7 separate regions of the Homo sapiens genome follow, and all the other regions are linked to region 5. Evidence: fine-mapped expression QTL. A gene starts in region 5. Each other region holds a variant in brackets. All regions are shown on one strand. Distances are between the middles of the regions. Region 1 overlaps GPR89B (G protein-coupled receptor 89B). Region 2 has its middle 21 kb from the start of PDE4DIP. Region 3 overlaps NBPF14 (NBPF member 14). Region 4 has its middle 62 kb from the start of NBPF9. Region 5 holds the start of PDE4DIP (phosphodiesterase 4D interacting protein). Region 6 has its middle 6.6 kb from the start of RNVU1-1. Region 7 overlaps PDE4DIP (phosphodiesterase 4D interacting protein).

Region 1 (4,570 bases), 880 kb after region 5:
GTTTGGTAGTAGTGTACAACAGAAGAAGCTAAAAAATGTCTACTGAGGTTTAAATGTCAGTCAACTATTTTCTGGTCTCTGTTGTTTCTAGTAGGAAGTCAGCCATTACTTTTTTTTAGTTAAACTTTTTGAAATAATTGTAGATTCATAATGTAGTTTTGAGAAAAAATACAGAGATTCCATGTACCCTTTACCCAGATTTCCTCAACTGAAATATCTTGCAAAACTCTAGTACAACCAGGATACTGACATTGATAGAGTCACAATACGGGACATTTCCATCACTACAAGGATCTTTCAGGGTGCACCTGTACAGCTTACCTCCCTCCCACCTCCAATTCCTTAATTCCGGCAACCACGAATCTGTTCTCCATTTCTGTAATTTTATCATTTCAAAAATGTATATATAACTAGAATCATACGGTATATATTCTTTGGGGATTCTTTTTCACTCAGCGTAATTTTCATAAACATTCAAGTACAGTTTTTTGTGTGAATATAAATCTTCATTTCTCTGGATAAATGCCCAGGAGTGCAATTGTTGGGGTGTGGTAACGGCATGTTTAGCTTTTAAAGAAAGAGCTAAACTGTGTTCCAGAGGGACTGTACCATTCTACATGGATGCCAGCAATGTATGAGTGATCCAGTTGCTCTGCATTCTTATTAGTATTTGGTGTTGTCACTAATTTTTATTTTAGCTATTCTGATAGGTGTGTAGTGATTATCTCGATGTAGTTTTAATGGCATGTCCATAATGGCTAACAATGTTGAACACCTTTTCATGTGGTTATGTGCCATTTGTATATCCTCTACAATAAAATGTTCATCATTTTTGCTTATTTTCTAACTGCATTTTTTTTAAATGTAAGCTTTGAATGTTTTTTATTCTAGATACTAGTGCTTTCTCAAATAAGTGGCTTGCAAATATTTTCTCCCAGTGGGTAGCTTATCTTTTCATCCTCTTAACAGTATTTTTTTTTTTTTTTTTTAAGAAGGAGTCTTGCTCTGTCACCCAGGCTAGAGTACAGTGGCTCCATCTTGGCTCACTGCAACCTCCGCCTCCCAGGTTCAAGCCATTTTCCTGCCTCAGCCTCCCGAGTAGTTGGGATTACAGGTGCCCGCCACCACGCCTGGCTAATTATTGTATTTTTAGTAGAGACGGGGTTTCACCATCTTGGCCAGGCTGGTCATGAACTCCTGACCTTGTGATCCACCCACCCTGGCCTCCCAAAGTGCTGGGATTACAGGCGTGAGCCACCGCACCGGGCCTTAACAGTCTTTTACAGAGCGAAAGTGTTAAATTTTGATGGAGCCCAATTTATCCATTTTTTCCTTTCATGGATTTTATTTTTGGTATCAAGTAAAGAACTTTTTGTGTAGCCCTTGATTCCAAAGATTCTTTTTTTTTTTTCTGAAAGTTTTATAGTTTTACATTTTAGTCTATTATCTGTTTTAATTTTTTTTTTTTTGAGACGGAGTCTCGCTCTGTTGCCCAGGCTGGAGGGCAATGGCGGATCTCGGCTCACTGCAACCTCCACCTCCTGGGTTCAGCAATTCTCCTGCCTCAGCCTCCCCAGTAGCTGGGATTACAGGTGCCCGCCACCACACCGGGCTAATTTTTTGTATTTTTAGTAGAGACAGGGTTTCACCATGTTCACCGGTCTAGTCTTGAACTCCTGACCTTAAGTGATCCGTCCGCCTTGGCTTCCCAAAGTGCTGGGATTACAGGCATGAGCCACCGCGCCTGGCGTGTTTTAATTTTATATAAGGTGTAAGACTTAGATTTAGATTCATTTTTTAAACCTATGGACGCCTAATTGCTCTAGCACCATTTGGTGAAAGGTTATCTTTCCTCCACTGAACTGCTTTTGCATCTTTGTCAAAAATTAGCTGGGTGTATTTGTGTCAGTATTTCTTTTCTTTTCTTTTTTTTTTTTTTTTGAGACAGAGTTTGGCTCTGTCACCCAGGCTGGAGGGCAGCGGAGCAATCTCAGCTCACTGCAACCTCTGCCTCCTGGATTCAAGCAATTCTTCTGTCTCAACCTCCCAAGTAGCTGGGACTACAGGCGCATGCCACCATGTCCAGCTAATTTTTGTATTTTTAGTAGAGACGGGGTTTCGCCATATTGGTCAGGATGGTCTCAAACTCCTGACCTCAGGTGATCTACCTGCCTCAGCCTCCCAAA[G/C]TGCTGGGATTACAGACGTGAGCCACCGTGCCTGGCCATGTGTCGGTATTTCTGGGTTCTCTTTTCTGTTCCAGTGATCTATGTCTACCAGTACCACAGTCTTGATTACTGCAGCTATATAATATGTTTAAAGATCAGGTAGAGGAATTCCTCTCATACTGTTCTTTTTAAAAATTGTATTAACTATTCTAGTTATTTTGCCTTTCTGTACAAATTTTAGAATAATTTTGTGTATATCTACAAATAAATCTTGCTGGGATTTTGAAATGAATAACATTAAATTTGTATACCAATTTGGGGAGAATTAACATCATTACTATTCAAGTCTTCCAATCTATTAACATGGTTTATTTATATCTTATTTGATTTTTTCATTAGTTTTATAATTTTCAGCAAACAAGTCCTATATACATGTTTTGTTAGACTTCTATGTATTTCATTTTGTGAGTGATTGTAAGTAGTGTATTTAAACATTTGATGTTCATATGTCCGTTGCTAGCTTATAGAAAGACAATTGATTTAAAAAAATTGGATTTTCAAGATGGGGTCTTGTTACGTTGCTCTCAGGCTGCACTCAAACTCCTGGGCTCAAACAATCCTCTCGCTTTAGCCTCTTGAGTAGCTGGTCAAGCGCATTCACCACTGCTCCTGGCTACAACTGATTTTTGTATGTTCATTTGGTATTCTACAATGTTGTTGAATAACCATTACTTTTTTTTTTCCCATTGTTGCCCTGTATGTATCATTTTCCCCTTGTTGCTTTCAAGATTTTCTCTTTACTTTTGCCTTTTAGCAGTTTCACTATATATACACATAGGTGTAGTTTTCTTATGTTTTGGGCTGGTATTTCTTTCAATGCTTTTTCTGCCCCTTTCCTTTTCTTTAGAACTCCAATCACAAGAATGTTGGACTGCTTGATATTGTCTCCTACTGAGACTTTTGTTGAGTTTTCTTCAATCTTTTTTTAAAAAAATATTTACTATTTTTTTCTTCTTTTTGAGACAGAGTCTCGCTCTGTCACCTGGGGTGGGGTGCAGAGGCGTGACTGCAGCTCACTGCAACTTCCGCCTCCCAGGTTCAAGCCATTCTCCTGCCTCCATCTCCTGAGTAGCTGGGACTACAGGTTCCCACCACCACGCCCAGCTAATTTTTTTTGTATTTTTGGTAGAGACGGGGTTTCGCCATGTTGGCCAGGCCTCAAGTGATCCGCCTGCCTTGGCCTCCCAAAGTGCTGGGATTACCTGGCCATTTTTCTTCAATCTTTTATCTATTCTTCAGATTAAATAATTTCTATTAATCTATCTCAATTTTTATTTTTATTTTATGTTTTGAGACAGTCTCGCTCTGTCACCCAAGCTGGAGTGCAGTGGCATGATCTCAGCTCACTACAACCTTGCCTCCTGGGTTCAAGTGATTCTCCTACCTCAGCTTCCCAAGTAGCTGGCACTACAGGCACGTGAAAGCATGGCCAGCTAAGTTTTGTATTTTTGGTAGAGACAGGGTTTCACTATGTTGGCCAGGCTGGTCTCTAACTCCTGATCTCAGGTGTCCAACCACCTCGGCCTCCCAAAGTGCTGGGATTACAGGCGTGAGCCACCATGCCCAGCCTGAATTTTTATGGATCTGATTCTTCTGTCATCTCAATTCTCCTGTTAAGCCCACCTAGTAAAATTTTTATTTCCGTTACTGTAGTTTTCAGTCTTTGGATTTCTATTTTGTTGTTTTTTAAAAGTTTCCATTTCTTTGTTGGGATTCTCTTTTCACTTGTATCATGCTTTCCTTCACTTTTTTGAATATATTTGTAATGGTTACTTTCAAGTCTTTGTTAAATGTGTAATCTGGATCCACTTGGAGTTAGTATCTATTGGCTGCTTTTTATCTTGAACATTGGTCACATCGTCTTGTTTCTTTACATGTCTAGCAAGTTTTGGTTGAAGGTAATATGTTGTAGTGACTTTGGAATCTGTTTTGTTTTTCTGAGAATTGTTAATTTTTTTGGCACTAGTAAGCAGTTAATTTACTTAAACTGTGAAATCTGTCATACCTGCAGCAGCTAATGTTTCTGCTCAGTTTCTTGGTTTCTAGCTTCTCCTTTTTAGCCTAACTCCCTGATATTCTCTGCTGAGCTTGAGCTTGTGTAGGGTAGTGGTAGTCTGGACAAATTCTATAGTCATATTTTAGGGCTTATCCTCTCTGTGGATCTTTTGCTTCTAGGGATCTCTCCTAAATTTTCAACTGCTTTGCCAGTCCTGAGATCTACCCTCTGACACCTCAAGCCAGAAAAGCTTTCACTTTCTGTCATCCAAACTGTGTGTTCAACCTGCACATAGCTCAGAAAATGCACTCAATCAAAGGCACAGCAACCTTGCAAATCGCACCAAGAA
Region 2 (4,570 bases), 21 kb after region 5:
TAATCAAGATAAATCATATTTTAATGCAATATTTTAGAAAAATAGTAACGCAAAAAAAATCCGCAATGAACAAAATATCAAAACTTTAAATAAAGACAGGATCTGACCCTGCATTTTCATGATTCAGGGAGTGTCTTACTTGCTTCGTCCTAGTCCAGGCCCAACTTGTTCATCCCCAGATGATGTGCCAAAAGCCACATCTTTAGGTGTCTCCTCTGGTGCTCTCTAGTGCTATGTTCTGCTGACCTTGTTGGCAACAGCTCTCTGTCTGTTATGAATGGTTGGACATCAGGTGGCACCTTTAAGATACCACAAGGTAAAAGCAACTCTCTGAGCCAAGGCCAGCTCTTCCAACCTCCTTCCAAACAGTCTTACGTCTCAAGGGCAAGTTTCTGTGATGTATAGGGCATCAGGGAGAGGGTAGAATGGGGTAGAAAGGGGAGATAATGGGAGAGGGAAAAAAGAACAGGTGACCTCATGAGTTGGCACTAATGTAACTAGAGTGCAATTTTTCAAGAGTCTATCTTTTTTAAGAAAACCTTGAGCCCCAACTCTTATTTGGAGGCACCTGCTCACTCACCTCCAAAACCAAATCCACCTCACCTCTATTCTTCTTTTCACATTGTGTACGGGTAGTTCTGGAAATCAAAGTGGCCATGCTGCTTCCTCCATGCAGCCTGTAGTGAATTCAAGTAGTGTAGGATACTTCAAACTGGAGCTTCTCTACTGTGAATAGCTGCTCATCCCCAAGTACCAAACCTAATTTTGTGACAATGAAAACCATCTGCAGGTGCCCCCTGCTGGTGGTACTATCCTAGAGACTTGCCTTCACTGATGTATTTTGTTTGGTCAATGGTCCAGAAAGTCACAGTCACAGTCACCAACACTATTCCCTATGCCCTTACACCTAAGCAGGTTCACTTATTTATGCTACCCGCCAGGCACCTGCAGGTGTGTGGCATTTGCATTTTCCTTCTATGGCTTCCTAGTTCCTCATGGTGGGAACCTGGGGCCCGACTTCTTGCCTCTCAAACTATTAATATGTCTGCCTCACAGGGCCAGGCACTTCTCTAGTCTTGAGTCACCCATGTCATTCTTTTAACCTACCCTCGGGTAGGACACTGGAGCCATAGATGTGAACCTTAGCCTTTAAGGCACGCAAGAAGACACTGAAGTCCCCAGGGCCAGTCACTGCCAGCAATGTCTTCCAGCGGTGGTTGAAGGGATGACTGAGGCAAGCAGAGTCTGAGTTTGTTATTGTTCTGAGGATATAGACAAAAATCTTTAATAAGGCTTACATAGCTTGGCATAGTCTTCAGCCTCAGCTCTGGTTATACTCCCCCTTCCCTTTTGTGCTTAGTTTGTACTAGTCTTGTTCCAGAAGAAGAAAGGGAGAACTAATTCTGCTGCTCCTCTGGTGTCCAGGAGCTCAGGTAATGGATGCAGACTGTAATAGGCAGTCTCTAAGTTGGTCCCCAGTGATCCCTGGTCATCAAACCCTTGTGTAATTCCCTCGCCTTGAGTCTGGGATGGATCTAGTACTCATTTGTAATGAATACAGTAGGGCAGCAGTGATGGAATGTTGCTTCCGAGATTAGATTATTTTTTAAAAAGCAAAAACAACTGTGGCTTCCATTTGGAGTATGCATGCTCTCTTTCTTTTAGATCAGTTGTGCTGTGGGAACTAAGCTACCATGTTATAAGCAGACCTATTGTGTGGACAGGAACTAAAGCCTGCCAAATACCGTGTGCGTGAGTCTGAAAACGGACCTTTCAGCCCCTGTCGAGTCTTGAGATGACAGCAGCCCCAGCTGAGTGCTTGACTGCAACCTCATGAGAGAACTTGAGGCAATTCTAACCAGCTAAGCTGCTCCCAGATTTCTGACCCTCCAAAACTGTGAGTACTAAATACTTGCAGTTTTCAGCCACTGAGGTGATTTGCTATGCAGCAATAGTAATAGTAACAAACACACAGACTTCTGAACCTTTCCCCAATCCAAGGTCATTCTGTGGAGTTAGAGACCCA[GC/C]TCTCCCATTCACAAAGAAGCTATTATTCTCTCTACAGTAAAGAAAGACAAAGAAGTCAGAGCAGTTTTTTAACGCTGCACATCAGGAAACTAGATGTATGCTGAAAATTTGGGAGTGATAAGTAGGACCTTTCCCAGTCTGTAGAATATACCACCAAAGCATGCTCACTCGAGAATGTGCTTTTGATTACTACCAAGCACACTTTTTTTTCTTTTTGAAGATATGTGCAAACAATGAAAACCCTTCTTGCTGAAATTACAATATAGCCGTACATTTTGGTTGAAATGTTTATTTGGAGATTTCAAAGTCAAGGTTGATATAGCCAAAAGATAATACAGATTAGACTATCATGGAAACAAAAAGAATCTAAAATTTGATATTGTTTGTACACTAGGGTCACTGCTCATGTTAACATTTCCTTCATTGCATCCACTTTCTCGGAGCTGGTGTTGTAGGGTTAGATGTGAGTGTGAATGAGCATGCGTACAGTGGACAAAATCCCCCCATTCTGTAAATGCGTGTGCCTATTATTCTGGGCAGTGAACCCAGCCTGCTTTAAGTCTTTGTTATTTGAATAGTGTCCCAGATTCTCCTTTGAAATGTGCGGTTCACCTATTTTTATTAACCTTAATATGGAGCTTTCTGATGCTTTTTTGATAGATTCTTGGTCGTGCCCAGGTACACTTCCTTTCGTTTTAAACAGGTCATATATTTCTCTGTGCTGGCCTTCAGGTGGTGTGCCATATAAATTAGAAAGCAAATTTTCACAAGGTCAAATTTTAATCATGCAGCTTAGTATTTTTAAACAGATGACATTTTCATACTTGGTATGCTAACTTGAAGACCAGACCATTTTTGCCCAAGTTCTACCAAAGGTTTTCGTTTTATAGTCTTCATTTGTTTTGTTTTGGTTTACTTTTTAACAAAAAGCAAACCTAGGAAAAAATTTTAAAAACATACAAGATGCACAAAAACAATTACTCTAATACACATGAAACAGAAAATCAACACCTGCCAATTAAACACAACTTCTACCATTTCATAACTGTGTGATCTTGTCAAATTACTTAACCTCTCTATAAAACGGGATCACGATAGCATCTTTCTCACAGAATTATAGTGAAAATTAAATAATATTATTCTTATGAAATGTTTAAGATCGGGCCTAGCATTTATCATTTACTCGATAAATATTAATCATGTAATTATATATGTAATTATGGTGATAATGATAATGTTGCTGCCATGAGATGTCAGGTTTCACAATATAAAATCATTACAGAATTCTGTTTGGAACTCCTGTGAGACCTAGTATGAATCACCTATAGTTATGAGGCTGCTCTAGCAAATAAATCTAAGAGAACAGGCAACTTCATGAAGAGGTTAAAGTGTCCTAGGGCAGTGGTCTCCAACCTTTTTGGTACCAGGAACCATTTTCAAGGAAGACAACTTTTCCATGGACAGGGTGGGGGATGGATTTGGAATGATCATCAGGTATTAGATCCTCGTAAGAAGCAGGCAACCTAGATCCCTCATATGCCCAGTTCACAATAGGGTTCCCGTTCCTATGAGAATTGAATGCAGCTGCTGGTCTGCTGATCGACAGGAGGTGGAGCTCAGGGGTAATGCTCGCTGGCCTGCCACTCACCTCCTGCTATGCAGCCGGGGTCCTAACAGGCCAGAACCAGTACCAGTCCATGCTCTGGGGGCTGGGGACCCCTGTTCTAGGGAAATACCATCACCATGTCTGCTACCCCTCCCACCGTGGGCGCTACCACCATTTGGTCACCATATGCAACCCTGTGTGAAGATATTCTTAATACTATCCAGGGTCCTTTTCATTTGAGTGACCTCTATCTCTTTGTCCCACCATCTAACTCCCACCCTCATAATGAGTGGGGAGAAAACCTCCACCAGGGTGAAGCAAAAAACCTCAAACAGAGGCTTCAAACAAAACTTAATATAAAGACTCCAACCATGAAGTTGTCTCTTTTTATCCCCCGGTTATCTTCTTTGTTGGTTTTGTTTTCGGGATCTGCAGGGTACCAAGTTATCTGCTAGAAGGCTCAGTCCTTCTCTTCTTACCAGCCCCACTGCTACCGCCATGATGTAAATCGCTATGATCTCACATTGGTGTTACTTACTGCAATAGCCAGCAAAGCAGCTCCCTTCCTTCCACTCTTGGCCTCCTAAGGTCTGTTTTCCAATAGCAAAGTGACTTTTTAACATTTTTCAGATCATATGATGTTCCTGTTTTAAATCTTTATTGGCTTCCCCATGTCCTTAGAATAACATCCACTTCTTACCACGGCCTATGAGGTCTCAGGTGACCTGGCTCAGGTTCACCTCTGCCCCCTCCTCTTATTTATTATGCTCCAGCTGCACTGGCCATTTTCTTCCTCAAACACACTAAGCTTATTTCTACCTTAGGGGTTTTGCAGTTCTTTCACCTCCTGCTTTAATTCCTCTCTAACGAAATTTTTTTAAAATAAACTTTATTAATATCAGAAATCCCTTTATTTGTATATTTATTTATTTGTTT
Region 3 (4,570 bases), 250 kb after region 5:
CTCTGAAGTACAGCAGCTCGGCGGGGAGAAGTAAGAACGAAGCTGGGCCAGGGGAAGGGCAGAAATTGCCATGGCAGGCTCATGACACAAAAATATTTATCAGAGAACAAGGATAATAATAAGTTCTCTGTTGCAGTTGTTTCTTAGAGCCTTGTTTTCTCTTTTTCAAACAAGTAATTGTTGAGGTGAAATTTACATAACACAAAATTCACCAAAGGAGTGGGAACCACCCAGCAGCATTCAGTATAATCAAAATGGTGTGCTATCGCCACCCCACTTACCCTTAGTGAGAATCACCTCCTGACTGACTGCGGCTTCTCATTCTTTCACTCAATCAATGTTGCCTCCTCGACCCTGTCCTTCTTTTCTTCTTTCATCTTTTCAATTCGCCCCATCTGCACCTGGCCTCATTTCTGTACGTGGCTTTGTATGTAGTGGCCGCAAGATGCACTATGTGTATTTTCACATGGAAATGTCCATGGCCAGAGTGAGGAACTGAAAGGATGTCTTTTTGAAACGGAATTAGGAAGACACCTACTTTTGTTTACAGAAGAGAAAGATGAATGGAACATCATCGAGGATCTTGCAGGAGCCCTCTCTGATAGAGGGAAAGCCTGTAGACCATTTTCTATTCTTTCTCTTGGCCACAGTCATTCCTTTCAACATGTGCTGACCTTCTGCTTGGAGGTCTCCTTGATGACATTGTCTCAGAAGTCTCTGTTGCAATATTTGAACGGATCACTCAACCCTTTCTACTCTTAAATTTTCTCTACCGTCTCACCTTAGGCAATATAAAGTCCTGGTTCACTCTCAGGAACGAGAGCTGACCCAGCTAAGGGAGAAGTTACGGGAAGGGAGAGATGCCTCCCGCTCATTGTATGAGCATCTCCAGGCCCTCCTCACTCCGTATGAGCCGGACAAGTCCCAGGGGCAGGACCTCCAAGAACAGCTGGCTGAGGGGTGTAGACTGGCACAGCACCTTGTCCAAAAGCTCAGCCCAGGTAAGGTGGCCATAGGCCCTGATGACCCAAAACCCCAGGCTTATGAGAGGCTCCAGACCTCCATACTTTCACAATGACAGTTGTATCAGTGGGGTTTTTTTCTACTACACCTATGTGGCCATGACATGATCAGGACTTCCTGGGTAAGAACAGAGATGGGAAACCCATGGGTTTGGAGGTCACAGTATTGCAAGTGTCCCTCCTTCCTTGATGGAAGGTGGTCTTTGGAGCAAGAGGCAGCATCTATCTAGTTTTAAAGGACAGGAAGGAGGCTGTGATGGAAGGGCGCTTGTTGGAGTGAAAAGAGCTCTGGGCTAAGAATGAAGGTTCCCAGGCTGTATTTTTGGCAATGTTCTTAGTAAGTGTCAGTGAGTGATTTATCTTTTCAGAGTTTCTCTCTCTCCATCTGCAAAGGCAGACAAATTGTCTCTTGCAAGGGTCTGAAGCATCCAAATATGGGAACACTTACGAATGCTTTTCAAAATGAGATGAAGCCCCTCTCCATGTGGTGTTGGAGAAGGCACTTGATGTGGGGGCATTTGGTGGTAGGAAGTGCTTCAGACTGGAGCACTCCCCATGGATAGAATGTCCCTGAATAACACAGCAGAAGCCACATGGAGGGCCTGTGCAATCTCATGACGCATAGAGGACTGTGGGACAAGTTTGTCCTCTCCTAAGAGAAAGAATGAGGTTTGAAATGCGAACTGTGACAGGACACCAAGCCTGTTCCTGGGAATCAGATCTGTGGCAGGATGGGGGAGACAGCTGCCAAAGTCCAGAGAGAGGCTGCACAAGCCTCCAGTGATATGGGAAGCAAAAGGTCTTTTCAGTATTTGGCCACATCTTGATGGTGGCCCTCCACATCAGAAATGCATTGCCCGATGGACCAGGAAACCATGCCAGGGCATTTTGTGAAAGATAAAACATGAGAGTTTTCAGTACAATGCTGAACCATACATAGATGTTCATGTCTCTGTGCACGTTGGGCTGACTGTGCTTGCAGAATGTGAAGTGGGAAATA[T/C]CTGAACGAACATTTTGTATTTCTAGAAAATGACGAAGATGAGGATGAAGATGTTCAAGTTGAGGAGGCTGAGAAAGTACTGGAATCATCTGCCCCCAGGTAACACTGAATACTCAGGAGCAAGTAATGGGTGGTAACGTATGAAAATGTCTAGGAGGCACACCCTCTCTGGCATCTATGATGGGCCAAATGCCCGCATTCCCTTGGCCACAGTATGTGAAATTCAACCCAGCTTAGACACAGGGTGCGGCAGCTGTCGTGTTTCTCTATGTGTGCCAAGTGTCATGTCTGTACCATACAGGGATAGCTGAGTCTTCATCCTCCTCAGCTCCTATCTGTTCAGTGCACTGAACACCAGCTGCTCTCTTCCTCTCTGGCTCCCATGGCAGCCATGGTCTGTTGCAGAGAGAAGAGGATTGCCTGTTCCCTCTTTAAGGGAACCTCCGTTTTGCTTTCTGGAACCACTCTCTTAATGCCACCTGTCAAAACCAGCTAGGACTCCCTGGGGTCCAATCCCTCTGTGTTTAATCTTCTGTCATCTCTGTCCCACCTGGCTCATCAGGGAGGTGCAGAAGGCTGAAGAGAGCAAAGTCCCTGAGGACTCACTGGAGGAATGTGCCATCACTTGTTCAAATAGCCACGGCCCTTGTGACTCCAACCAGCCTCACAAGAACATCAAAATCACATTTGAGGAAGACGAAGTCAACTCAACTCTGGTTGTAGACAGAGAATCCTCTCATGATGAATGTCAGGATGCTCTAAACATTCTCCCAGGTAGCCTCTATTTTCCTTGTGTCTCATACCTCTGTCTAGGCTATGGAAGATCAATTCTGAGGACAGGCTGTATATACACATATTGTTATTGTTTTAGTCAGAAACTAGGATGGAGCTAGGTGCTGTGACTCACACATATAATCACAGCACTTTGGAAGGCCCAAGTGGGACGATGACTTGAGTTCAGGAGTTGAAGACCAGCCTACACAATATGGTGAAACCCATCTTTACAAAGAATACAAAAAATTAGGCAGGCATGGTGCTGCACGCCTATAGTCCCAACTGCTCAGGAGACTTAGGTGGGAGGATGGGCTGAGATGATCCTCCCACTCTCATTCACTTCTGTCAGGCTAGACTCTCTCTCCTTTTCATTGGCTTGTCTTAGCTATTAATAAGTCTCGGCTGGGAGCAGTGGGTCACACCTGTAATCCGAGCACTTTGGGAGGCCGAGGCGGGTGGATCATGAGGTCAGGAGATTGAGACCATCCTGGCTAACACGGTGAAACCCCATCTTTACTAAAAATACAAAAAAAAAAAAAAATAGCTGGGCGTGGTGGTGGGCGCCTGTAGTCCCAGCTACTCAGGAGGCTGAGGCAGGAGAATTGGCATGAACCCAGGAACCGGAGCTTGCAGTGAGCCGAGATTGTGCCACTGCACTCCAGCCTGGGAGACAGAGCGAGACTCCATCTCAAAAAAAAAAAAAAAAAAAAAAAAAAGTAAGTCTCTGACCAGGGGCGCTGGCTCACATCTTAATCCCAGCACTTTGGGAGGCTGAGGTGGGCGGAACACCTGAGCTCAGGAGTTCGAAACCAGCCTGTCCAAGATGGCGAAACCCCATCTCTACTAAGAATACAAAAATTAGCTGGCATGTTACTTGGCGCTTGTAATCCCAGATGCTTGGCAGGCTGAGGGATGAGAATCGCTTGAACCCGGACGGCAGAGGTGGCAGTGAGCTGAGATTGTGCCTCTGCACTGCAGCCTGCGTGACAGAGTGAGACTCCGTCTCAAACAAAAAACAAAAAACCAAAAAAGAAAAAAATTAAAAAAGCAAAATGAAATCTTTTGTGCTACACAGAAACATTGGCCACTCATGGGGTAAAAATCTCAGGGCCAAGCCTTGCTTTATAGAAACGTATAAGCAAGAAAAGTGTAGAAGTGTTTATGTCCTGGTTTCAAGGTGACTGCATAGCTAAGACAAGTTGACTTAAAGGAGATCAAGACTGGAGATGACAAGAGTGAAACCAGGGAAACATCATCTTCAAATAAGTAAACAAGGCTGCCAGTGACATCCCTCAGTCCTGATTAAGCCTATTTGATTTCACCAGTTTTTAACCCATCATGTGTTTGCCTTTCTTCTCCCCAGTCCCTGGCCCCACCTCTTCTGCCACAAACGTCAGCATGGTGGTATCAGCCGGCCCTTTGTCCAGCGAGAAGGCAGAGATGAACATTCTAGAAATCAATGAGAAATTGCGCCCCCAGCTGGCAGAGAAGAAACAGCAGTTCAGAAACCTCAAAGAGAAATGTTTTCTAACTCAACTGTCCGGCTTCCTGGCCAACCAACAGAAGAAATACAGTAAGATCTATAGGCTCACCATCATGAAAGTGATGAATGATATCCTGTCTTCTCTCTGAGACACTAAATGCTCTCTCCATCAAAAATAATTTCATCCTTCCTGTACTTCTAGGAAAACAGAAATGGGTATTTTAACATTTTGTCAAAGTTGGAAGACAGAGGTACCAAAGTATTTAGCAACTTTCCATGTTTGCAATCAGG
Region 4 (4,570 bases), 200 kb before region 5:
AGGGGACTGGCATCTCATTGTCTGGATGCTGTGATTGGCTGAGTTTCAGGTCTCTGATGCTTTTTGAGAGGACTGAGAGTCCTTTCCTGAGGAAGGAACTCAGATAAAACAAATATAATTTTCTTTTATAGAATGGCTTGACCTCAGGAGTTTGAAACCAGTCTGGGCAATATGGTGAAACCCTGTCTCTACCAAAATACAAAAAAAAAAAAAAAGAGGGTTGCTTCCAAGATGGCTGAATAGGAACAGCTCCGGTCTACAGCTTCAAGTGAGATAGACGCAGAAGACAGGTGATTTCTGCATTTCCAACTGAGGTACCTGGTTCATCTCACTGGGACTCGTTGAACAGTGGGTGCAGCCCATAGAGGATGAGCCAAAGCAGGGTGGGGTGTCACCTCACCTGGGAAGTGCAAGGGGTTGGGGGATTTCTTTTTCCTAGCCAAGGGAAGCTGTGAGTGACTGCACCTGGAGGAGCAGTACACTCCTGCTCAAATACTGTGCTTTTTTCCACTGTCTTTGCAACTGACAGACCAGGAGATTCCCTCTTGTGCCTGCCTCGGCAAGTCCCATGCCCATGGAGCCTTGCTTGCTGCTAGCACAGCAGTCTGAGATCAACCTGCGACATTGGAGCATGGCAGGGAGAGGGGGTTCTGCCACTGCTGAGGCTCGAGTACTTGGTTCCATGGTCACAGTGTAAACAAAGTGGTAGGGAAGCTCGAACTGGGCAGGGCCCACTGCAGCTCAGCAAGGCCTACTGCCTCTAGATTCCACCTCTGGGGGCAGGGCATATCTGAATAACAGGCAGCAGACAGCTTCTGCAGACTTAAATGTCCCTGCCTGACAGCCCTAAAGGCAGCAGTAGTTCTCCCAGCGTGGCATTTGAGCTCTGATAATGGACAGACAGCCTCCTCAAGTGGGTCTCTGACCACCGTGTAGCCTAACTGGGAGACACCTCCCAGTAGGGGCCGACAGACACCTCATACAAGTGGGTGCCCCGCTGGGACAAAGCTTCCAGAGGAAGGATCAGGCAGCAATATTTGCTATTCTGCAGCCTCTGCTGGTGACACCCAGGCAAACAGGGTCTGGAGTGGACCTCCAGCAAACTCCAACAGACCTGCAGCTGAGGGACCTGCCTGGTTAGAAGGATTAACAAACAGAAAGGAATAGCATCAACATCAACAAAAAGACATCCACACTAAAACCCCATCTGTAGGTCACCAACATCAAAGACCAAAGTAGTACATAAAACCACAAAGATGGGGAGAAACCAGAGCAGAAAGGCTGAAAATTCCAAAAACCAGAGCGCCTCTTCTCCTCCAAAGGAACACAAGTCCTCACCAGCAAGGGAACAAAACTGGATGGAGAATTAGTTTGATGAGGTGACAGAAGCAGGCTTCAGAAGGTCGGTAATAACAAACTTCTCCGGGCTAAAGGAGCATGTTCTAACCCATCACAAGGAAGCTGAAAACCTTGAAAAAAGGTTAGATGAATGGCTAACTAGAATAAACAGTGTAGAGAAGAGCTTAAGTGACCTGCAGGAGCTGAAAACCACAGTATGAGAACCTCATGAAGCATAAACAAGATTCAATAGCCAATTCAATCAAGCGGAATAAAGGATATCAGTGATTGAAGATCAAATTAATGAAATAAAGTGAGAAGACAAGATTAGAGGAAAAAGAGTAAAAAGAAATGAACAAAGACTCCAATAAATATGGGACTATGTAAAAAGACCAAATCTACATTTGATAGCTGTACCTGAAAGTGACAGAGAGAATGGAACCAAGTTAGAAAACACTCTTCACGATATTATTCAGGAGAACTTCCCCATCCTAGCAAGGAAGGCCAACATTCAAATTCAAGACATACAGAGAACACCACAAGATACTCATTGAGAAGAGCAACCCCAAGACACATAATTGTCAGATTCACCAAGGTTGAAATGAAGGAAAAAATATTAAGGGCAGCCAGAGAGAAAGGTCGGGTTACCCACAAAGGGAAGCCCATCAGACTGAGAGCGGACCTCTTGGCAGAAACACTACAAGCCAGAAGAGAGTGGGGACCAATATTCAACATTCTTAAAGAAAAGAATTTTCAATCCAGAATTTCATATC[C/A]AGCCAAATGAAGCTTCATAAGTGAAGGAGAAACAAAATCTGTTACAGACAAGCAAATGCTGAGAGACTTTGTCACCACCAGACCTGCCTTACAAGAGCTCCTGAAGGAAGCACTAAACATGGAAAGGAACAACCAGTACCAGCCACTGCAAAAACATGCCAAATTGTAAAGACCATCTATGCTATGAAGAAACTGCATCTATTAATAGGTAAAATAAGGCCGGGAGCAGTGGCTCACGCCTGTAATCCTAGAACTTTGGGAGGCTGAGGCGGGCGGATCACAAGGTCAGGAGATTGAGACCACCCTGGCTAACACTGTGAAACCCCATCTCTACTAAAAATACAAAAACAGAACTAGCCGGGCATGGTGGCGGGTGCCTGTAGTCCCAGCTATTCAAGAGGCTGAGGCAGGAGAATGGTGTGAACCTGGAAGGTGGAGCTTGCAGTGAGCCGAGATCACACCACTGCACTCCAGCCTGGGTGACAGAGCGAGACTCCATCTCAAAAAAAAAGAAAAAAAGGTGGGAAATAACCAGCTAGTATCACAATGACAAGATCAAATTCACACATAACAATATTAACCTGAAACATAAATGGGATAAATTCCCCAATTAAAAAACACAGACTGGCAAATTGGATAAAGAGTCAAAACCCAGGGGCTGTTCCAAGATGGCTGAATAGGAACAGCTCCAGTCTACAGCTCCCAGCATGAGTGATGCGGAAGATGGGTGATTTCTGCATTTCCAATTGAGGTACTGGGTTCTTCTCACTGGGGCTTGTCAGACAGTGGGTGCAGGACAGTGGGTGCAGCTCACCGAGCATGAGCTGAAGCAGGGCAAGGCATCGCCTCACCCAGGAAGTGCAAGGGGTCAGGGAATTCCCTTTCATAGCCAAGCAAAGCTGTGGCAGATGGCACCTGGAAAATTGGGTCACTCCCATGCTAATACAGCACTTTTCCAATGTTCTTAGCAAACGGCACGCTAGGAGATTATATCCCATGCCTGGCTCAGAGGGTCACACACCCACGGAGCCTCACTCCTTGCTAGCACAGCAGTCTGAGATCGAACTGCAAGGTGGCAGCAAGGCTTGGGGAGGGGTGCCCGCCATTGCTGAGGCTTGAGTAGGAAAAAAAAGCTGCAGGGAAGTTCAAACTGGGTGGAGCCCACTGCAGCTCAAGGAGGCCTGCCTGCCTCTGTAGACTCCACCTCTGGGGGCAGGGCATAGCCAAACAAAAGGCAGCAGAAACCTCTGCAGACTTAAATGTCCCTGTCTGACAGCTTTGAAGAGAGTAGTGGCTCTCCCAGCATGGAGTTTGAGATCTGAGAACAGACAGACTGCCTCCTCAAGTGGGTCCCTGACTCTCAAGTAGCCTATCTGGGAGGCATCCCCCAGTAGGGGCAGACTGACACCTCACACGGCCGGGTACCCCTCTGAGACAAAACCTCCAGAGGAACGATCAGACAAAAACATTTGCTGTTCAGCAATATTTGCTGTTCTGCAGCCTCCACTGCTGATACCCAGGCAAACAGGGTCTGGAGTGGACCTCCAGCAAACTTCAACAGACCTGCAGCTGAGGGTCCTGACTGTTAAAAGGAAAACTAACAGACAGAAAGGACATGCACACCAAAACCCCATCTGTATGTCACTATCATCAAAGACTACAGGTAGATAAAACCACAAAGATGGGGGAAAAAAAGAACAGAAAAACTGAAAATTCTAAAAATCAGAGTGCCTCTCCTCCTCCAAAGGAATGCAGCTCCGCACCAGCAATGGAACAAAGCTGGACAGAGAATGACTTTGATGAGTTGAGAGAAGAAGGCTTCAGAATATCAAACTACTCCGAACTAAAGGAGGAAGTTCGAACCCATTGCAAAGAAGTTAAAAACCTTGAAAAAAGATTAGATGAACGACTAACTAGAATAACCAATGCAGAGAAGTCCTTAAAGGACCAGGTGGAGCTGAAAACCATGGCATGAGAGCTACATGATAAATGCACAAGCTTCAGTGGCCGATTCGATCAACTGGAAGAAAGGGTATTGGTGATTCAAGATCAAATGAATGAAATGAAGTGAGAAGAGAAGTTTAGAGAAAAAAGAATAAAAAGAAATGAACAAAGCCTCCAAGAAATATGGGACTATGTGAAAAGACCAAATCTATGTCTAATTGGTGTACCTGAAAGTGACAGGGAGAATGGAACCAAGTTGGAAAACACTCTGCAGGATATTATCCAGGAGAACTTCCCCAACCTAGCAAGGCAGGCCAACATTCAAATTCAGGAAATACAGAGAACACCACAAAGATACTCCTCGAGAAGAGCAACTCCAAGACACATAATTGTCAGATTCACCAAAGTTGAAATGAAGGAAAAAATGTTAAGGGCAGCCAGAGAGAAAGGTCGGGATACCCACAAAGGGAAGCCCATCAGACTAACAGCTGATCTCTTGGCAGAAACTCTACAA
Region 5 (4,570 bases):
AAAGCTTTTTTTTAATTTTTTTTTGAGACGGAGTCTCGCTCTGTCGCCCAGGCTGGAGTGCAGTGGCGCGATCTCGGCTCACTGCAAGCTCCGCTTCCCGGGTTCACGCCATTCTCCTACCTCAGCCTCCCAAGTAGCTGGTACTACAGGCGCCCGCCACCACGCCCGGCTAATTTTTTTTGTGTTTTTAGTAGAGACGGGGCTTCACTGTGTTAGCCAGGATGGTCTCAATCTCCTGACCTCGTAATCCGCCCCCCTCAGCCTCCCAAAGTACTGCAATTACAGGCGTGAGCCACCTCGCCTGGTCTTTTTTTTTTTTTTTTTTTTTTTTTTTTTTGAGGCGGAGTTTCGCTTTTGTTGCCCAGGCTGGAGTGCAATGGCTTGATCTCGGCTCACCACAAACTTCTCCTCCCGGGTTCAAGCGATTCTCCTGCCTCAGCCTCCGGAGTAGCTGGGATTACAGGCACGTGCGACCACGCCCGGCTAATTTTGTATTTTAGTAGAGATGGGGTTTCTCCATGTTGGTCAGGCTGGTCTCGAACTCCCGACCTCAGGTGATCCGCCTGCCTCAGCCTCCCAAAGTGCTGGGATTACAGGCATGAGCCACTGCACCTGGCCAGAAAGCTTTTTCTTTACACTGAGCCATAACTCGCCTCCCAACAACTCGCTTGCATCGGTTGTTCTGTCCTCCTAAGAGATTCTAATGTGATTCAATCCCTCTACCACCAATAGCTCTTCGGAAATTTGAAGGAAGCTACCACATCCTCCCCACTCCCAGTCGTCATTTCTCCGGACTCAGGAGTCCCAGGTCCTTCCTTTGGCCATCCCTCAAGGCATGGCTTTGAGTTCCCTCCTGTCTCTTGATTGTACTTATTTTATCTAATGATGCCCAGAACTAAGCACAGCCCTCTCGGAGAGGCCCAAGAGGAGCAGAAAGGAGCCAAAAGTAAAATCATCACTTTTGATCTAGACAGAATCTAGACAGCCTACTTCTTCTGTCAACAAACCCTAAGCTTCAATTTGCTCCTTCTTTAATATTCACATTATACCATTCACTCCTGTTGAGCTTAGCAATCAACTAAAAGCACCCAAGTCTTTTGCATAAGCCCCAAATTTACCTTCTGTGTTTGTACCGTCTTCACTCTCTCAGGAGTCAGAGCGCTCATTTGGCCCCACCCCAATTCTCCAAAGCTAAATCCCACAGATGGAAGCGTATCTGTTATAGAGACACCGCTGGAATAGTCTCCCTACCCTCCCACCCACTAAAAAACAGAAACGAAGTCTTTGTCTCAATACATGGTCTCTTATCCTTACCCTTTCCTTGAATGGGGCTTCATTTTAAAGTGTGTCTGGGGGAAGGACTGGAAGAAAACGCAGTTTCACAGGCCATCTCCAAAATCTGACCTAAAAGCCAACTGTTGCCTGGCCTCAATAAAGCCTGAGCAGTGTGGTGCCCTGATCTCTTTCCTTCTCCATTCCTCCCCCAAGTGGGCTCCAACTGGAGGTTGTGGAGATGAGTGCTGCTGGGCTCTGCTCACTCAGTCCCTTTGCCTTTGTGTGAGTAGTGACAGATGAGGCTGAGAAGGAAAACGTGGCAGGGTGAGAATAAACCTGATATTGTTCAAAGCATCTGACATCAAACATATCTCTCAAGAAGACCTACTGGAATCCCTCTAGCCACACGAACAAGGAAACGACAGAGAACCATTTCTACAGAAAGTTCCAGGCGGCCTCCCTGGGTATTTTTAACATCAGGACTCGGTGGAGGGGAGAGTCATTAAGCAAGGGAAACCCCGTAAAACAGAACATGTGAAAATGACCAAGAGAGGTGGGCTGGGAACCAGGCAGGGCGAGGCTACAGAAAAGGGAAGCTGTCACGGGACCCTGGTGGTGAGGGGCGACCTCTCTCTCCCTAAGGGCGCTGGGGGAGGGGAGGGAGGAGGACCACCAAGTCTGGAGCGCGGCGAGAAGGAAACAGCCCACCTACCTCGTCCAGGTCTGCTCCATTTTCCAGGCTCTTTCCTTAGTCTCAGGACGCTCCTCACCCGGGAGGGGAAGCAGCCTGGGAAAATGAGAAGCCTTGCCCACGAATCTCCAGCGCAAAAGGCAGCAGCTTTTTCCTCCCCAGCTCCTTTCTGCGTCGGCGGCGAAGAGAGAGCTCTGCTCCCTGCTTTTTTAGAAAATGGATTTGACGTGGCCGAACCTGCGGCTAGCCGTGCGACCCGCACAAGGGAGGGACTGTTCTCAGTAGGAGGCTGGACTCAGAGCGGCGCGGCGCCCGGGGCTGTTTCGTGAGCTGGAGCCAGCGGCTGCCCGGGCCGCGGTGCGCGCACTCTCCAGGCTGAGACACGACTGGCTGGCACGAGTTGCTCGGCACCAGCTGAGCTGTCAACCGCGAGCGGAGGCGGGGCTCCCGACAACCAGTGTGCTGGGGCAGAATCGGCCCAGGTTACACGCCCCCTGAACCACCCTCGCGTCTCCCCGACCCCTCTCTCGCTGGCTCAGATGAATGATGACGGCAGAGGGCAGAGAGCTTAGAGGACGCGGTACCAAGCCCCGTCCCTCGCCCATCCCAACGAAGGTCTTAGAATACAATCAACCAACTACAGGAAGAATTTGTAGAGGAGGTTTTCTTGTGTGTCTGCATCGCCCCACCCACAGGTAACCCCAGAGCCAGAGATGGAGTCTAGGAAGGTTTAGGAGCAATCCCGGCTGAATGCAGATGTATACCCTACGTGGTCATGGAACACGATGTTGTCTTCCTAGAGATGTGACATGCCAGTTTCACCATTAATCCAGGGACAGGACCCTTCATCAGGAAGGGAAGCATCCCAACAAAACCTTACAGCCCTATTAGCTGCCTGTATCCCAGACATCTCCTGTTTTAGGGTATTCTACCTCCTCGTTTTTCAGTTTCGCCAGCAACTGGGCTCTACCAATAGCTTCAAGGAGGGAGAAGCTTCCTGACTCCCAGAACACTAGAAAAGCCTCAAGACAGTAGCCATCAGGACCTCGACACTCCCTTGTGACTGTTTTAAGATCATGGAAAAGGCCTCTTTGGAGATGGCATTGCCTCAGGCCCTGTACCATGTACTTATGTATCAAGATTTAAACAAGGCAGACATACTATAATTAGAGTGCTTGCCACCCTGAAGCTCCTTTTTAGCTTTCAAATAAGACCGTTTTATTAAATGACATAATCACTGTTATTATTAGCACTATCACTGACCTTTTTTTTTATCTGAAAAAGGCTTTATAGTGCCCACATGTGGCAATGTTAATTTCGTTGTACTTGTTTCAGAGATGATAAATTTGAGACCCCAAAAGGCCCAAAGTCTCTGCTAAGGTTCTGATACAGGCTGTGTTCTCCATTGGGTGGCCCCAGAGATATGTTCCCTGAATTTCTAAAGCTACGACCCACAAGACTTCTCCAGGATGAATTTATTCTTTCAGGCCTCCTAGGCATTTAACTCAGGAAGAACCTGGCATGCCTGGGTATTGGTGAGACTGTGGGGAGTCTGTGTTCTTGGGGGAACCTGTCATCTGTCTGTTATCTCTTGGATTGGTTCCCCTACATACTAGTACAAAGTAGGGGTGGGGAGGGGAGGATAACAAAACATTTGAAGGTTTAGCAGAACTGTCTAAAAAGCCCCTAGTCTAGACTCCTCCAACACTTGATTTATTGGTAGGACCACACTGCTCCAGAGCTCAAAATGTTACCAGGAAAAATTTCAAGGTCCAGTTTGATCTTAGACAAGGCTCACAGGCCACCTGTCTTGAAAAGAATATCCTGTTGCCTCTGATGGGGGGGAAGAAAAGGCAGGGAGAGTCAGATTCCCATCCTTCATACCAAAGTTGGGGCTATATTTAGCTTTGTCTCAAATCAAATTATGGGCTACCGAGTTGTGGAGAGGAACTCTGTCTACAGGCAGCTCACTGGATTCAAGAAATGATAGCACTAACTAGGTGAGCTGTGGGGTCTCAGAAGTGACGCTAGAAAATACGTTCATGTATTTTTAAAATAACTTTTTTCAAAAGTTTATAGCACATTCATTGTAAAAACATTTGAAAAATACAGAAAGTTATATAGATTACTCAGAATACCCAGGGATCTTCAATATTAAAAATGTGTTGCATTTTTTTCCCACTCTTTAAAAAATGCATCTTTTAATCCAAACACCAACTCTTTCTTACACACATGGGTATATTCTTGAGAAGAGAAATTTCCTTGTTGTTTTAAAAATTATACTTATTGTCAAAAGAACAATTTTTTTGCGTTAGATTTCAGAAGAAAAATATTCACCCATATAACCACTGCTACAGCACAAATGTTTAAATTTCTCCAAATTCCCTTTAGTCATTATCTATATATATTAAATATCTATTTACATAATTACGATTACAGCTTAGGTATATGTTTATATTCTCCTTCTTTCACTTAGTAAATATTTGTCCATGTTTTTAGGGAAAGTTCATAGTTATTATTCTAATGAGTGTACAATATTTTATAATATTAGTAGGACCATAGATTACTTAAAATATTCTACTATTGCATAGTTATGCTGTTTCT
Region 6 (4,570 bases), 480 kb after region 5:
TATGAAGCATCCTCTTGTAAATATCCAAGAAACTGGACCCACCTAACCATTTCCTGGTCATTTCCTAAGTCATAAGCAGAATGAAGAAAATTGGGATCTTTTGAAATGCTTAAAATAATTTATTAGTGTGCACAATTGGAAAATTTTTGTTTTTGTTTTTTTGTTTTTTGTTTTTTTGATGGAGTCTTGCTGTGTCACCCAGGCTGGAAGGCAGCGGCATGATCTCGGCTCACTGCAACCTCCGCCTCCCAGGTTCAAGCGATTCTCCTGCCTCAGCCTCCCAAACAGCTGGGACTAAAGGGACACGCCAGCATGCCCAGCTAATTTTTGTATTTTTAGTAGAGGCAGGGTTTCACCATGTTGGCCAAGATGGTCTCCATCTCATGACCTCGTGATCCACCCACCTCAGCCTCCCAAAGTGCTGGAATTACAGGCATGAGCCACCGCGCCTGGCCAAAAAATTTGGTTTTAGAACCAAATTAAATGGGAGACATACTTCCAATGATACCTAGAAATTTCTAAAAGAACTGAGAAAATTGCCTCCAGTGAGGAAGTAAGCTGAAGGAAGTCATCTGACACGTTTTCTGAATTGAGAAATATTGAGGAGGCTTTGTCTCTTTCGCCTCCAACTGCTGCTTCTCCTCCTGCCCCTGCACCTGCATAGTCTCCCTTACCTGAGCCCTCTGGTCCTGCCTTGCCTCTTCTTCCATCACCATCACCTGAGGAAAGTCCCCAGGGCTCTGGCCCCTTCCCTGAAACTTCTGTTCTGACAGCCCCTTTCAAGGTAAAACCCACAGGAAGAGGGGAGCCTACCATTCTGTATACTGCTTCACCAAAATGTGAATTAAGAATATTATAAAAAGACTTCCCTGGGCTGGGCGCAGTGGCTCTTGCGTGTAATCCCAGCACATTGGGAGGACTAGGCAGGCAGATCATGAGGTCAGGAGTTTGAGAGCAGCCTGGACAACATGGTGAAACCCCATCTATACTAAAAATACAAAAATTAGCCAGTCATGGTGGCACATGACTGCAATCCCAGCTACTCGGGAGGCTGAGGCAGGAGAATCTCTTGAACTTGGGAAGTGGAGGTTGCAGTGAGCCAAGACTATGCCATTGCACTCAGCCTGGGTGACACAGCAAGACTCTGTATCAAAAAAAAAAAAAAAAAAAAAAAAAAGACTTCCCTGATGAAAATTTACATGAATTTTCCCCTTCTTTCTTTCTTTCTTTTTTTTTTTCTCTGCTCAGTGCAACCTCCGCCTCCCGGGTTCAAGCAATTCTCTGCCTCAGCCTCCCAAGTGGCTGGGATTACAGGTGCCCACCACCATGCCTGGCTAATTTTTTTGTATTTTTAGTAGAGAGGGGGTTTCACCATCTTGGCCAGACTGGTCTTGAACTCCTGACCTTGTGATCCACCCGCCTTGGCCTCCCAAAGTGCTGGGATGACAGGCGTGAGCCACTGCACCCAGCTGAATTTTCCCTTTCTAATTCAAAAGCAACCTCCAAGATCCTATAGGGTTTAGGAGAAAATTTGACTTAATTGTCCAAACTTTTGAGCCTGGATATTCTGATCTTTATCAATTAATTCACATGTTGGTGTAAGAAGGCAGGGCCACTAAATGGTTGGAAAGGGTGAATTGGAATAATCCTTTAGAGGGTTTTTAAAAACAGACAGAAGCAGACAATGAAAGGGTCTGCATTTTTGCCAAATACCTCCATGTTGCCATTACCCAGGTTGTTCCCCAATATGTAGATTGGAGAATTCAGCAATGCACTTAAAAGGCCAAACAAATCTGTCATTGATATTTTAAATGGTTAAGATTTATTTATTGATTTATTGAGACAGGGTCTCACTCTGTCACCCAGGCTGGAATGCAGTGGCTCCATCATGGCCCACCACATCCTCAACCTCTCAGCTCTAGCAATACTCCCACCTCAGCCTCCCGAGTAGCTGGGACCACAGGTGCATGCCACAATGCCCAGCTAATTCTTTGATTTTTTTTTTTTTTTTTTTGTAGAGAGGACATCTTGCTGTGTTTTCCAGGCTGGACCTGAATGAACTCCTGGGCTCAATCAATCCTTCCACCTCAGCCTAACATTTACACTGGGAGCAGAGATGCATTTGGAGTAGGTGATGATTTTGGAATGCTTTAGAAGCAACATAGGTATCTGATTTCATCAGGTCAAGCCATCAAAAATGACCAATAAATCTCTGA[T/C]CTCTTAGAAGCAATTTGAAAACCCTTATCTTTGGCCATCATCAAAATTCCTGGTCATTCAAAACTAGATATTCCGGAGAGCAAGGACAATCATTTTGCTGATGCTGCAGCTAAGAATGCAGTTCTGAAGGTGGCATCAGACACAGAACTTCTCGAAATGACCTTGCTGACTTATGACCCATTGAAGACTTCATTAGAAGTAAAAGTGGGCTGGACATGGTGGCTCATGCCTGTAATCCCAGCACTTTGGGCGGCCCAGGCTGGTGGATCACTTGAGGTGAGGAGTTTGAGACCAGCCTGGCCAACATGATGAAACCCTGTTTCTACTAAAAATACAAAAATTAGCTGGTGTGGTGACACATGCCTACAATTCCTGCTACTTGAGAGGCAGAGGCACGAGAATTGCTTGAACCTGGGAGGCAGAGTTTGCAGTGAGCCGAGATTGCTCCACTGCACTCCAGCCTGGGTAACACAGCTAGACTCTAGCAAAAAAAAAAAGAAGCGTAAGTGGGAGCTCCTAAGCAGGAGAGGGATCTCTGGAAGGATAAAGGGAACAAGTTTCTTCCAGAAACAGGCTTATGGTATGGGCCCAATGATACACTGATCCACCCCTTAGGCTTCAATTACCCTGAATACAGTACTTCATAAGCTGCCTCATTGGAAATCAGATAAAATGTTAGCATGGGGAAAGCAATGGTATTGAAAATCATTGCCTATGATTGCAGAAAAGGTTTATTCTTGTGGTACTGTTTGTCCCAAACATCACCCTGGAAAGCCCCTTCATGGGTCACAAGGACATTTTAACTTTAGGACCCTTCGAGACATGGCAGTTAGACTTTATCCAGCTGTCTCCATCTCAGGGTCACAGATACTTTCTGGTGTTAATTTGTACGTGCTCACTGGGGTGAGCATTTCCATGCCAATGAGCCACAGCCCAAGTAGTAGGTAGATTGTGATTAGAAAAGGTAATTCCTGGCTGGGCGTAGTGGCTCACCCCTGTAATCCCAGCACTTTGGGAGGCCAAGGTGGGCAGATCACGAGGTCAAGAGATCGAGACCATCCTGGCCAACATGGTGAAACCCCGTCTCTACTAAAAATACAAAAATTAGCCAGGCGTGGTGGTGCACACCTGTAGTCCCAGCTACTCAGGAGGCTGAGGCAGGAGAATTGCTTGAATCTGGGAGGCGGAAGTTGCAGTGAGCTGAGATCGTGCCACTGCACTCCAGCCTTCCAATAGAGCTAGTCTCCATCTCAAAAAAAAAAAGAAAAGAAAAGGTAATTCCTCATGGGGAGTGCCATCTGAATGCCATAGCAACTGAGGAACACACTTCATTGGTCAGGTAATTGGATCCATTTGTAATGTTTTGCCTATGTCCCAACATTTCCATTGTGCCTGTCACCCATAATCCTCTGGGCCGATGGAATGTACTAATGACACAATAAAAACTCAGTTGGCAAAGCTAACAGAAGTTTTTAACCTTTCTTGGCCAAGGATCTCCCACTGGTTCTGGAAAATGTCCACACTCCCTCTCTTTGAAATAATAACGGAAGACCCATGCAGTGGTTAGATGAAGGCGCTTATGAATCTGCACTTCTTAAAGGTGACTTTCTCCATTACTGCTAAGATCTCTCAAAACTTACTAAGAACTCCACATTAATAAAGGATTCCTTTCATAATGCACTCCTGGGAGATGAAAATACTAAAAATCACGGCCTATAACCTGGAGATGTTGTTTACTAGAAACAACACCAAATAAAATATTCCCCCCAAGACTGTTGGAAGGGACCACATCAGGTATTATTATTATTTTATACATTTTTTTGAGATGGGATCCCATTCTATTCCCCAAGCCAGAATGCAGTGGCACAATCATGACTCAATGTAGCCTTGAACTCCTGGGTTCAAGCCATCCTTCTGCTTCAACCTTCCAAATAGTTGGGACCACAGGCATGGGCCACTGCACCTGACTCACAACAGGTATTACTGACCAATCTGTGCCATTAAACTTACGTGCGTTGACACACGGATTCATGTTTCTCTTGTAAAAGGCAACCCTGCCAGAGTGAACATCTGTCAGGAGATTTTCACTTAAAGGTAACTCAATCTTCCTGACAGAGATGGCAAGTAGCTGACATCTGTGGTAGTCCGCTTTCACCCAAGATACTGGCCTGTATAATCAGTTACAATTCCAGTGCTCACTGCACCTGAAAGAGTTAGTCTCTTTTTTGTTGACTGGAATACACACACCATTAGGGCTCCTTTAAGTTGTAGGGGTTGTCTCTTGGTGGTTTTGGTAAAATCACCCTATATGCATATTCTCTTAAGATATGCCACACTAGTCCTATTGTGTGTA
Region 7 (4,570 bases), 82 kb before region 5:
ATTTAATTATTTAAAGAAATTTGGTTGTAAACATTTTTAAAAACAATGCTTTTATCATAAAATTGGAATTTTATAAATTAGGTTTGCTTAAGGTGAGAGGGGACTCTGATGGTAAAGTTATACAGGGAACAATTAATTTTTATTGAGGTGAGGATGCAACAAGTAAGATTTGGGGAAACAGAAATAAGGAAATAAAAACATCCCAAGTGTGTCTGGTGCAGGTTAAGTGGCTTAGTGTGTGGTAAGGAGTATAGAAAATAGTTTGCAACTAGTTTGTGAAAATCCTGCTAAGACAACTAGATAGGCCGGCCACGGTGGCTCACACCTATAATCCCAGCACTTTGGGAGGCCAAGGCAGGCAGATCACTCGAGGTCAGGCTTTAGAGACCAGCCTAACCAACATGGTGAAACCTCATCTCTGCTAAAAATACAAAAATTAGCTGGGCGTGGTGACATGCGCCTGTAATCCCAGCTACTTGGGAGGCTGAAACAGGAGAATCGCTTGAACCCAGGAGGTGGAGGTTGCAGTCAGCCAAGATCATGCTGCTGCACTCCAGCCTGGGTGACAGAGAGAGACTCTGTCTCAAAATAAAAAAAATTAAAAAAGTAAAAAACTGGATAATAATCAGTAGAAATCAAAGACTTATCAGGGAGCTTTAAGCAAAGTATTGGCATGATCGGGTCCATGTTGAAGAAGGAATTATGAAGAAGGTGGGTGGGTCAGGGGCAACTAACCAGAATAGGGAGGGGGACTGTCTAAGGACAAGAGGTACAGGGAGAAAGACTCAAAAGCCATTTCAGAGACAGAAGCCACAGGCCTTGATGACTTGTGAGATTCAGATTAGACTGGAGGGAGGACCAAAGACAATGCTGAAATTTCCAGCATGTCAGTGGGAATGCATTCTATTAACTAAAATAGGGGCAGGTTTGTAGGGGAACCTAAGGAGGTTTCTGCAAAATGTTAATTGAGGGATTACTTTATTTCAGCTTAAACGTTAGCATGCAAAGATGGATTAGTCCCTTCCCTGATGAAGTCCATAATACAGTATTAGGCAAGAAGAATGTTATTTAGTAAAGAAGTCTTTAGATCAGAGGTTGACAGAGAGACTGAAGGTAAAGTAGCTAAAGTATGAAAAGTAGTATTGTGGGTACTAGAACAGTAGGGAGGATTTTACTTTACTATCGCCATATAATAACCACCAACACCTAGACTTCTAGAAGTCCAAGGCAACATACAATAGCAGCATATTTTCTACCATACTTGTGAAGGCATTTCATAACCCATGTTTCCATGCAGGGTGGTCGAAACACAAATACTAATTGGGAAAAGTAGAAACCTAGTTTAGATATTTGAGAGTTACTTAGAATTAAAGAATTTTAGAGCTGGAAGGCAGTTGGACTCAAGGCATTTTAGATCATATTACTAGTATGTTTTTAGTGACATACTGAGAAGAATGTTTGTTCCCCTCATAAGTAGGTACCTTTTGACCAAGGTTAGAACATAGATTCAGATCCAGTGAGATGAAAATATCCTAATTTCTTCAAAAGAAGGAATGATAGCCCTGTCTTTTCAGGATATACTTTAAAGTTATTATTTTATGAACACTAAATAGCATTACCAGATTTAGCAAATAAAAATATAAGATATCTACTTCAATTTAAATTTCAGATAAACAACAAATAATTTGTTTCATTAGAAGTATATCCTTTGCAATATTTGAGACATAACTTAAACGCTAAAACATTGTTTGTTGTTTATCTGAAATTTAAATTGAATTGAGTACCCTGTATTTTATTCTGCAATACAAATACCAAAAGATTAACAAATGGAAACACGCATATTTCAATTTTGTATGAAGAACAAGTCTAAGATCTCTATATCAGTTCCATGGCCTGGCACTGCAAGAATAATTCATCTGTACCAATTGATGAATCAGTAAAATAGAAGATTTGCTAAACAGTTGCTATGTCCCCAGCTTTGTGGTCAATACTTAAAGGAATTCAAATGTCTTCATAAAAAATAGTCCCTAAGCTAGAGGCCCTTCATAGAGGTGAAGGAATATGCATTCAATTATGTGGGAAATGCAAAGAGGGAGCAACTTCCTAAT[G/C]TGTAATAGGCAGATAATTGTATTTTCCTCATTCATAAACCTACCTGAGAGGATCGTGAGGCATAAATAAATCAATACATGTAAAGGACTTAGGACAGTGTTTCTAACACAGGTATAACTATAATTTTAATTATAATAATATTATTATCACCATCATCATCAAGAACAACAGCATTATCATTTGGAACAGCAGTTTGCTTTCCATGAGACCATAATGTTTCAAGTGGATTCAGTGTTCAGGATATGGTGCTGAGAAAGAGGACTCCTAAGTTTATTATTATTTCTGCCACCAATTGATTCACTTCTGTGACCTTGGGTAAAATTCTGCTAAGGCTTCTCCACCTGGAAAATGACAAAGAGTGGGCAAAAAGCTATTTAAATCTCATATGAAAGAAAATGGAATCTATAATTATGAAGTGTTATTATCAATGATATTCCTATGCCTGGCTAATTTATATAAATCAGAAAAGTCTGGATATGCTAAACCACCTCAGATAAGCCAAAACTGCTTGAGCAGATTTTTTAAAAATCTCATATCTAAAAATACGTGAGGTCTCAAATGACTGGAGCTATATGGATGTCCTCTGCCTAGTTCTTAGTCTCATGATGTGACATAGGGAATCTCTATCAGGTATAAACTGATCAACAGAAAGTTCCCTGAAAAGTCCCTTACTATTAATACTATTTTTGCATGAGGAATCTTTGAATATTCAAATAAAAATAAACAAACAACAGGGAAAGTGAGAGGCACTATGAAACCAACCTAAAGCCAGAAAGAATTAGGTTCGAATCCTGGCTCTATCACTTTCCTGCTAGGTGACCTTGGGCAGGTTAACTAATCACTATGAGCCTCAGTTTTCTTATAAGTATAGTGTGGTTGCTTTGCTTTTTAATGAAGATAAGTATTCACGAGGGATTCTGTGAGGATTGAATGAGACAATGTGCATGATAAGCATAGAACAATGCCTTGCACACAGCTGTGCAACAACCTTGATTCACTTTCCCTTCATGTCCAGGCTGACTAGTGCCAGTCAGAGACCCCAGCCTTACCAGGAAAAATACTTAGATCTAAAAGGAAGAAAAACAGAGGACATAAATTAGTACGTTCTATCTGTTCTAAATCCTACTGAAGAAAATGAAGTCAATGCTTTGACCAATTTGGCCAAAGATTCACAGATTTGAAGACCTCAGCATTTCTGTGTTCTAGTTCTCTTAGTTTAAAGACAAGGAAATTGAAATCCAGAAGGGTTACCTCCAAGGTAAAAGCCGTAACTGAAACCAACACTCCACTCTTGCTTTAGCCTTTTATCAGAGAGACCAGCTTAGCAAACACTGCCCAGTTTTGTCTGATTTTGTAGAATGTGGTAAATTATAGAATTAGAGAATGTGCTGCATTTAGTCTTGAAAGAATATATGGAGGCAGTAAGTACAGTGGTCAAGAGCATAGGCTCTGAAGGCGAGAAGGGGGCTTGACAAGTCACCTGCCCTCTCTAAGAGCCTCATTCACCTCATCTATCAAGGAGATAACAATGATACCAATCTACAAAGGATGTTAGGGAGACTAAATGAAATTATGCACAAAAATCACATCGCACAGTGCCTGGCATGCAGTCAGTATTCAGAAAATGATAACTATTATTAACTATAAAAACAATAACAATTTACCCTCTCTAACTAGGATAGCTGAAATCCAGAAGGGTTTTCAAGGTAAAAGCAATAATCTTACATCAAAGTCTAACCTTCTTGCACCTTCTTTCTGTAGAAAAATCATCATATAGCTTATCACATTTATTCATTCTCCATTACTAAATATTCATGTGTAAATTGTTAAATTCTTTTATAGCATCAGTAGATTCCAAATTAACTGCATTTGCTTATTTTATCACCAAGTCTTCTTGGCTCTTTGTCAAGATATCTAAGGAAATTTATGTACTCAAGAAAGGGGAGATGGGAAGAAAGCACTTCTCTTTCTTCATGCCTCCAAAGGAGTGTTCGCCCATCTAACTCAAGAAAAAGTTTCAATGATGAAGCTGAAATTAAACTTCTATTAGGTATTTCTTCCTTCTCCCCAGGACTGGAGTACATGAATAGTCTCATATCTGGTTTCCCCAACCTCAGTCCCTCTACTACTTAAATTTTTCCTAAAGCATAGCTCTGGTTATTTCATTCCGTCTGTTCAAAAAGCATTTAATATGTGATGCAGGTCCAGCTAAAGAAGAAAAAGGAAAGAAAGAAAAAACCTTTTAACGATTTTTAACTGTACAGCGATTAAATTATACACAACTGGCCTGATAATAGAGTCTATTCAAAATTTGACCTCAATCTACCTCTCCAGCTTTATCTTCCATTATTATCTGCTAGCCTAACTGGATTTCCCAAACATGCCCTATGCTTCTTGGTGCCACATCATTGTGTGCCCTTCAGCTTCATGGTTAAATGCTCCGTCCCCTGTGAAGCCTTAC

The links. PIP is the estimated chance that this variant, and not a neighbour inherited with it, causes the effect. A credible set is the group of variants that fine-mapping cannot tell apart.
Region 1: its variant is the best candidate, but not a certain one, in a credible set for the expression of PDE4DIP in whole blood (INTERVAL, PIP 0.88).
Region 2: its variant is the best candidate, but not a certain one, in a credible set for the expression of PDE4DIP in whole blood (GTEx, PIP 0.57).
Region 3: its variant is the best candidate, but not a certain one, in a credible set for the expression of PDE4DIP in lymphoblastoid cells (GTEx, PIP 0.71).
Region 4: its variant is the best candidate, but not a certain one, in a credible set for the expression of PDE4DIP in whole blood (INTERVAL, PIP 0.68).
Region 6: its variant is the best candidate, but not a certain one, in a credible set for the expression of PDE4DIP in whole blood (INTERVAL, PIP 0.61).
Region 7: its variant is the best candidate, but not a certain one, in a credible set for the expression of PDE4DIP in sun-exposed skin (GTEx, PIP 0.78).

What each region holds. Positions count from the first base shown.
Region 1 is chr1:147,959,795-147,964,364 of GRCh38, reverse strand. The region is part of intron 7 of GPR89B (G protein-coupled receptor 89B); the gene reads right to left. Among named protein-coding and RNA genes, the nearest start is that of GPR89B, 34 kb to the right of the region's middle. The variant G/C (reference allele first, on the strand shown) is at 2,187.
Region 2 is chr1:148,821,455-148,826,024 of GRCh38, reverse strand. It overlaps a transcript of PDE4DIP not described here. Among named protein-coding and RNA genes, the nearest start is that of PDE4DIP, 21 kb to the left of the region's middle. RefSeq lists an enhancer at 466-1,008. The variant GC/C (reference allele first, on the strand shown) is at 2,027.
Region 3 is chr1:148,588,983-148,593,552 of GRCh38, reverse strand. It overlaps NBPF14 (NBPF member 14), which reads left to right. Exons shown (of 71, transcript NM_001395631.1): 4 at 787-1,001; 5 at 2,049-2,121; 6 at 2,585-2,796; 7 at 4,160-4,369. Among named protein-coding and RNA genes, the nearest start is that of NBPF14, 4.7 kb to the left of the region's middle. The variant T/C (reference allele first, on the strand shown) is at 2,023.
Region 4 is chr1:149,039,344-149,043,913 of GRCh38, reverse strand. No RefSeq gene overlaps it. Among named protein-coding and RNA genes, the nearest start is that of NBPF9, 62 kb to the left of the region's middle. The variant C/A (reference allele first, on the strand shown) is at 2,112.
Region 5 is chr1:148,842,212-148,846,781 of GRCh38, reverse strand. It overlaps PDE4DIP (phosphodiesterase 4D interacting protein), which reads right to left and starts at 2,354. Exons shown (of 47, transcript NM_001395426.1): 1 at 1,988-2,354. The coding sequence starts at 2,007. RefSeq lists enhancers at 1,461-2,183, 2,184-2,905.
Region 6 is chr1:148,366,875-148,371,444 of GRCh38, reverse strand. It overlaps LOC124904396. Among named protein-coding and RNA genes, the nearest start is that of RNVU1-1, 6.6 kb to the right of the region's middle. The variant T/C (reference allele first, on the strand shown) is at 2,217.
Region 7 is chr1:148,924,213-148,928,782 of GRCh38, reverse strand. All of the region lies in intron 4 of PDE4DIP (phosphodiesterase 4D interacting protein), which reads right to left. Among named protein-coding and RNA genes, the nearest start is that of PDE4DIP, 82 kb to the right of the region's middle. The variant G/C (reference allele first, on the strand shown) is at 2,109.